2 linked regions of the Homo sapiens genome follow. The protein of the gene in region 1 interacts with the protein of each later gene in a biochemical or structural test. Each region holds a gene or a part of one and is shown on either strand. Other genes may lie near its edges. The genes, in order: CASKIN1 and CASK.

Region 1 (3,812 bases):
GGGCCATGCTTACGGCCTTTGCTCACAGGCACCCAGGTACGTGCCAGCCACACGCCTGGCAGGTGTGCATGGAACACCCTGCAGGCATCCACCAGCTTGTGTGCGTGCACACATGCTCCACCGCACGTGTGGCCCTCACCAATAGCTGACACCCCCATTCTCAGCGATACCTGCACACGCCATGGCCAATCGTCATTAACACGGAGGTGCGGCCGGGCGCGGTGGCTCACGCCTGTAATCCCAGCACTTTGGGAGGCCGAGGTAGGTGGATCACGAGGTCAAGAGATCGAGACCATCCTGGCTAACACGGTGAAACCCAGTCTCTACTAAAACCAAAAATTGGCCAGGCGTGGTGGCGGGTGCCTATAGTCCCAGCTACTTGGGAGTCTGAGGCAGGAGAATGGCATGAACCCGGGAGGCGGAGCTTGCAGTGAGCCGAGATTGCGCCACTGCACTCCAGCCTGGGCGACAGAGCGAGGCTCCGTCTCAAACAAAGCAAAACAACAGGGAGGTGCCTGTGCAGTGGGATGGGTTCCGGGCCTGAAGAAGGTGGGCCCAGGCCTAGCCCAACTGAAGCGGACTCTCTGGGCCTCACACTGAGCTCTGGGCTCCCAACGGGAGAGGCGATCGGTGGCTGTCAAAAGCCACCTGGCGCGTGGGTCTGCACTCACCCTGCCTTGCCTCACTCAATTGGTGGCTCGGGGATCCTCCTAGGGGTCAGGTCCGGGTCCCACGGGCCTTGCCGCGCACCTGGGGGTGGCTGAGTGTTCAAGAGCAGTTGCATGAGTGAATTCCAGCTGGAAGTGTGGACGCCTGAATGCCGCTCGGGGAGTGATCGGGTGTTTCTCGGTGCAGATTGCTGTGGGTGTTGGCACGTGTGTGTGTTGTGGCTGTGTGGCATGTGTGTGGCCCTGTGATGTGGGTGAGAGGTCAGAGTGTGAAACGGGATGGGGTGCTGGTGCCTGTGCACGGCTGGGAGCGCAGCGTGCAAATCATGTGCGTGTTCCTGTACCAGGTGTGGCCCCATGCGTCTGTGTCCATGACTCGGGTGTGTCTCCCCATGGTGCTGTACTCGTGGCTGCCTGGCCGGGTGGGAAAGTGCCTTCTTCTGCCCCCCCGACAAGGGTGTCCTGTGGATGTGGGCAGCCGTGCGTGTGTGCGCATGTGTGCGATATGCGGCATGCAGTGTCCGGTGCCTGAGCCGAGGCTCTGCCTACATTTCTGGTGCCAATACCTCGGCCTATCCGTTTGTCCTCCTGTCTGTCTGTGCCCTGCTGGCCCGGTGACCCTTCCTCCTCCAGCTCCAGGTAGATGGGCAGGGTGCGGGCAGCCAGCCCAGGTGGCTCCTCTGTGTGTCTGCTCTGTAGGCTAACCTGGCCGTGTGGCTGTCCATGATCGGCCTGGCCCAGTACTACAAGGTGTTGGTGGACAATGGCTACGAGAACATTGATTTCATCACCGACATCACCTGGGAGGACCTGCAGGAGATCGGCATCACCAAGCTGGGTGAGGCCCCAGCCCCAGCCCTCGTCCCCAGCCCAACCCTCAGCCCAAGCCCCAGCCACCAGCCACCAGCCCAGCCCCAGCCCCGCCCCAGCCCCAAGCTGGGCCCCAAGCCCAGCCCAGCCCCGCCCCTAGCCCGGCCCCTGCCCCTCCGCCTCCTGGTCCACCTGACCTGCCCCCTGCGCCCCACTCAGGGCACCAGAAGAAGCTGATGCTCGCTGTGAGGAAGCTGGCAGAGCTGCAGAAGGCTGAATACGCCAAGTATGAGGGGGGCCCCCTGCGCCGGAAGGCGCCCCAGTCTCTTGAAGTGATGGCCATCGAGTCGCCGCCCCCGCCTGAGCCCACACCGGCCGACTGCCAGTCCCCTAAAATGACCACCTTCCAGGACAGCGAGCTCAGTGACGAGCTGCAGGCTGCCATGACTGGCCCGGCTGAGGTGGGGCCCACCACTGAGAAGCCCTCCAGCCACCTGCCACCCACCCCGAGGGCCACCACGCGGCAGGACTCCAGCCTGGGTGGTCGGGCACGGCACATGAGCAGCTCGCAGGAGCTGCTGGGAGATGGGCCCCCTGGGCCCAGCAGCCCCATGTCTCGAAGCCAGGAGTACCTCCTGGATGAGGGCCCCGCCCCCGGCACCCCGCCCAGGGAGGCCCGGCCCGGCCGCCACGGCCACAGCATCAAGAGGGCCAGCGTGCCCCCCGTGCCTGGCAAGCCACGGCAGGTCCTCCCACCAGGCACTAGCCACTTCACGCCCCCCCAGACGCCCACCAAAACCCGACCAGGCTCTCCCCAGGCCCTTGGGGGACCTCATGGTCCAGCCCCAGCTACGGCCAAGGTGAAGCCCACCCCGCAGCTGCTGCCGCCGACAGAGCGCCCCATGTCACCCCGCTCCCTGCCTCAGTCACCGACGCACCGCGGCTTTGCCTACGTGCTGCCCCAGCCCGTGGAGGGCGAGGTGGGGCCGGCTGCCCCGGGGCCTGCGCCCCCACCCGTGCCGACGGCTGTGCCCACACTGTGCCTGCCCCCTGAGGCCGACGCGGAGCCGGGGCGGCCCAAGAAGCGGGCCCACAGCCTGAATCGCTATGCGGCGTCCGACAGCGAGCCGGAGCGGGACGAGCTGCTGGTGCCTGCGGCTGCCGGCCCCTATGCCACGGTCCAGCGGCGCGTGGGCCGCAGCCACTCAGTGAGGGCGCCCGCAGGTGCCGACAAGAACGTCAACCGCAGCCAGTCCTTTGCCGTGCGGCCCCGAAAGAAGGGGCCCCCGCCGCCCCCACCCAAGCGCTCCAGCTCGGCCCTGGCTAGTGCCAACCTGGCGGATGAGCCGGTGCCTGACGCCGAGCCTGAGGATGGCCTGCTGGGGGTCCGGGCACAGTGCCGGCGGGCCAGTGACCTGGCCGGCAGCGTGGACACGGGTAGTGCCGGCAGTGTGAAGAGCATCGCGGCCATGCTGGAGCTGTCCTCCATTGGGGGTGGGGGCCGGGCTGCCCGCAGGCCTCCTGAGGGCCACCCCACTCCCCGCCCTGCCAGCCCAGAGCCGGGCCGGGTGGCCACCGTGCTGGCCTCAGTGAAACACAAAGAGGCCATCGGGCCTGGCGGGGAGGTGGTGAACCGGCGCCGCACGCTCAGCGGGCCAGTCACCGGACTTCTGGCCACTGCCCGCCGGGGGCCTGGGGAGTCGGCAGACCCAGGCCCCTTTGTGGAGGATGGCACTGGCCGGCAGCGGCCTCGGGGTCCCTCCAAGGGCGAGGCGGGTGTCGAAGGCCCGCCCTTGGCCAAGGTGGAAGCCAGCGCCACACTCAAGAGGCGCATCCGGGCCAAGCAGAACCAGCAGGAGAACGTCAAGTTCATCCTGACCGAGTCTGACACGGTCAAGCGCAGGCCCAAGGCCAAGGAGCGGGAGGCCGGGCCTGAGCCACCACCGCCACTGTCCGTGTACCATAATGGCACTGGCACCGTGCGCCGCCGACCGGCCTCGGAGCAGGCTGGGCCTCCGGAGCTGCCTCCACCGCCCCCGCCTGCCGAACCCCCGCCCACCGACCTGGCGCACCTACCCCCATTGCCCCCGCCCGAGGGCGAAGCCCGGAAGCCGGCCAAGCCGCCTGTCTCTCCCAAGCCCGTCCTGACGCAGCCTGTGCCCAAGCTCCAGGGCTCGCCCACACCCACCTCCAAGAAGGTGCCGCTGCCAGGCCCTGGCAGCCCAGGTAGGCCAGCCAGGGTGGGGTGAAGGGGCAACAGGACCCTGCTCCACCTCCTTACTCGGTGGTCTGAGGGGTTTTCCTTTTCTTGGGTTTGATGGAAGCCCAGGTGGG
Region 2 (3,812 bases), on another chromosome or scaffold:
CACAAGCACTTAGCTCTGCTGTTGTCTCATGAAAACAACCATAGGCAATATGTAAACAAAAGCACATGGCTGTGTTCCAGTAAAACTTTGTTTACAAAAACAGACAGTAGGTGGCCAGGTGCAGTGGCTCACACCTGTAATCCCAGCACTTTGGGAGACTGAGGCGGGCAGATCACCTGAGGTCAGGAGTTTGAGACCAGTCTGGCCAACATGGTGAAACCCCGTCTCTGTTGGAAATACAAAAAATAGCTGGGCATGGTGGTACACGCCTATAATCCCAGCTGCTCAGGAGGCTGAGGGCACAAGAATCTCTTGAACCCAGGAGGTGGAAGTTGCAGTGAGCTGAGATCGCACCACTGCACTCCAGCCTGGGCTACAGAGTGGGACTCTGTCTCCAAAATAAAAAAATAAAAATAAAAAAAGACAGTAGACCATGTTTGGCCCATAAGCCAGTTTGTCACCTCCTGATTTAGGTCTTCCATAATAATTATGGGTATGTCTGGCCACAGTCATTGTGTTTTCAGTGTAACGTGTCTTTTGCTGTATCCTAACATTCTCCTTTTGCAAGATGTTATAGAACATCACTTTTCAATAGAACTTTCTGTGACAATGACAGTACTTGATGTCTGTGCAGTCCAGTACAGTGGCCACTAACCATACGTGGTTATTGAATCCTTGAAATGCCACTAGTGAGACTGAGAAACTAAAATTTGAATTTTATTTAATTTTGGCTTATTTAAATTTAACCATATGCAGTTTTCCATTTTTTTATTCTCCTTTTTTCCTTCTACACAAGACCCAACTGCATTAAGGCATACAGTGAGTTATATTAATCTTGGGTCATTTCACGTCTTCCTCCTGTGGTGGTTCATGAAGGGATAAAATACATCTCACCTGAACACTGAAAGTTTCACCAAACCAGACAATTCACTGGCTACTATGGTGTGATGCACACAGATAAATATGGTTTCTAGAATTTAGTTCTGCAAAGCCACTGGGGGTGAGAACAGGGGATATGAGATATACGCTAAAGAATCCACAGCTTTTAGGAAGAGACTGGGTTTGAGTAAATCTGTTGGGAGTGTAGTAAGCTCATCAGCTCAGCCTTTTAAACCTCTTGTGCCATGCGACTTTGCAGATACAACCAGACCTCCAAAGAAAGACGAAGAAAATGGAAAGAATTATTACTTTGTATCTCATGACCAAATGATGCAAGACATCTCTAATAACGAGTACTTGGAGTACGGCAGCCACGAGGATGCGATGTATGGGACAAAACTGGAGACCATCCGGAAGATCCACGAGCAGGGGCTGATTGCAATACTGGACGTGGAGCCTCAGGTAATGCCCAGCCTCCCCGAATGTCTGACATCCTGCCTGCATGCCAATAAGCACAGATTCTGAAATCAAAAATGCCATCAGAAAGTCACAGGTCACATAATAATTTCATAAACCACAGAAAAGTATCAGTAATGGAGGCGTTGGGGGTTCACAGTCTAGAATGCCAGCTGACTAATCGTTGGACTCAGTGCACACACCATGTATTTAAGAAGCAGAGATTATTCTCTTAAGAGGTTTATTATATGCAGAAGCTCAGTAAGGTTCCTGATTGTGTCTACGCCTGCCAGAAATCCTACGATCATCTGACCTCAGGATGAGGCTCTGGCACTTTGTTATCACAACAGCCACCTTCCCTCTCTGGGTACAGCTCACGCTGGACCATCAGAGCCTCTACCAGCACATTATGTTAATCTCCAGTGAGAAACTGATCCTGGGGCCTGGGTCTGAAACACAGCACTAGCTTTATGAAAGCAAGCATGAGTGAGCCCAGATGTCAGAGACAGCAGGGATGGAAACCCATGGTGGCTCTCAGCCTCTGCCATTTCCTTACCTGAGCACAATGCCTGACCCTGAGCAAAAACTAGGAGAGAGATAAAGACTTGGAAGAGGACTCAAAAGAGAGCCAGACACAGAGATGATGAAATGGTTTCTAGATATGTCTTGCAGTAGGAATTATTAAACTTGAAAAAGAGAAAGCTGAAGGCTTTACATCAAAAATGCTGACAAGCTGTTTTTTCATCTCTGAGTACAAACCAAGTAGATATGGGAGGCAAAGTATAGTAGGAAGGATTTGGGAGTTGTAGACATCAAGGTGGGTTATAGGAGAGGCTTGTGGGTGCCATGTGACTCCTGGGTCTGCCATTTCTAGGACTGATCTGTACCAAATCTCCTTTAACCCTTAGAAATAGAACCAGTATGCTACCTGCTGAAATAGTAGACCAGCTTCCCTCAAGCAGGCTGTGTTTCATCAGGAGGCTTACCTGGCTATCTTAGGCAGGGCGAATCCCTGTTCAAGGGCCACTGTATGAGACTTGGTCCCCTAACCATCCCTAAAGCAAGGACAGAACCTATATAGCCAGAGTCTGTGTGACCTGGGACCTGACAGCTCAGTTTCTGGGCTCCAGGATCCTAATTCGTGGCCAGTGGGTTCACCCATTTCCGTTTACAACACCTGATGGGGTTCTTGAACTTGGAACTTTGGAAACCACAAAAGGATCTGTTCAAGGGGCTAGGGAGGAAAGCAGCAGTAGGGTGAACACTGCCGTTTACTTAACAATTAACTTGGACCTATATAGAACTAAATATATGATGTGTACCACAGATTGATTTTTGTTTAACTACTAATCCCTCCTTACTAGGGATTGGAAAAATCTTCTGGCCAGGGGTGGCTAGAGGCAAAGTCTCAATCCTGGTCCTGGTCTTCGACATCCTCTCCTTGGGTTCCACACTGGTCTTCACCTGAACGTCGTTTTCTGCTGGTAGTAATGTCTCTAGCAGTATGCTGGCTGCAGGGCTCCTCAGACTCCCTCTGCATTACCTAAGTCCACTTTCGAGGGCTTTCTGCCTTACCTGCCTCCGCTGCTGCCGCCGCCACCGCCACTGCTGCTGCTGCCGCTGCTGCTGCTGCTCCACCCATAGCGTCCAGCTCTCCCTTTCTCCTTGCCCTTGCACAGCCATGCATTGCTCTGCACTGCTGAGTGGGAGACACTTCTCTCAGCCTCCTCAGGACACCCACAGCAGTTACTTTTACCCATTGCACTTGGCCCCAAAGCACCTCCTCACCCCGGCTGGGCACTCTCCTCTGCTCCCCTGAGTGCTGGATGAGCTCACCTGCACTCTTCTCTCCTGCTTCCTGGGTCCCTGCCTCTCAGAACTGTGATCTCTCAGATCCACCTAGCCCTGAGGGCCGGCCATAGGCATCCTGGCTGCCTGAGTCTCTTTGGGCCAGCGGCCCTGGGGATAGGGATTGCCCAGGTCCTGCTCCTCCTGTTGGTCTGGTTGACTACACTGGTCCCAGGCCCTCCTGCGCAGGCCAGCCTCATGCCAGTCCTGGTCTCACAATGACCATTGCATACCACAGTACAGCTGAGAATGCCCGCAGTCTGCACCGACTGGGCTTCACTCTCGGGCTTCTCTGCCCTCAGCCCAGTCTCTCCTCAGCTGGACAAGGCCTTCATCCTGCCTTCAGGATACCCGTGACCATGAACAACTTGCTTTCAGGCAGAGCCTCACTGCTCCAGGGAGGCTCTCTCCTTAGGACATTTTTCTCCATCCCCCTTTCCCACTCCAGCTTCTTAGATGACCCCTCTACTGTATCTTACAGACAATTTAATCCAACAAACTTGTATTAAGCCCTTATTATATGTCAAGCACAGGGTCAGGAGCTAAGAATACAATTCAGAAGACAAGATGGTGAGGATGAAATTCCTTCCTCATTGTACATCCAAAACTGTCCATAACAGAAGGGCCTT

What was found.
Region 2: the proteins of CASKIN1 (region 1) and CASK interact in a biophysical measurement, tested with the Homo sapiens proteins (2 studies listed by IntAct, with this or other methods).

Annotation. Positions count from the first base shown.
Region 1 is NC_000016.10:2,179,485-2,183,296, reverse strand, and holds part of CASKIN1 (caskin-1), read left to right. Parts: intron 1-1,367; coding exon 1,368-1,506; intron 1,507-1,697; coding exon 1,698-3,704; intron 3,705-3,812.
Region 2 is NC_000023.11:41,528,536-41,532,347, reverse strand, and holds part of CASK (peripheral plasma membrane protein CASK), read left to right. Parts: intron 1-1,138; coding exon 1,139-1,341; intron 1,342-3,812. UniProt on the Homo sapiens protein: Multidomain scaffolding Mg(2+)-independent protein kinase that catalyzes the phosphotransfer from ATP to proteins such as NRXN1, and plays a role in synaptic transmembrane protein anchoring and ion channel trafficking.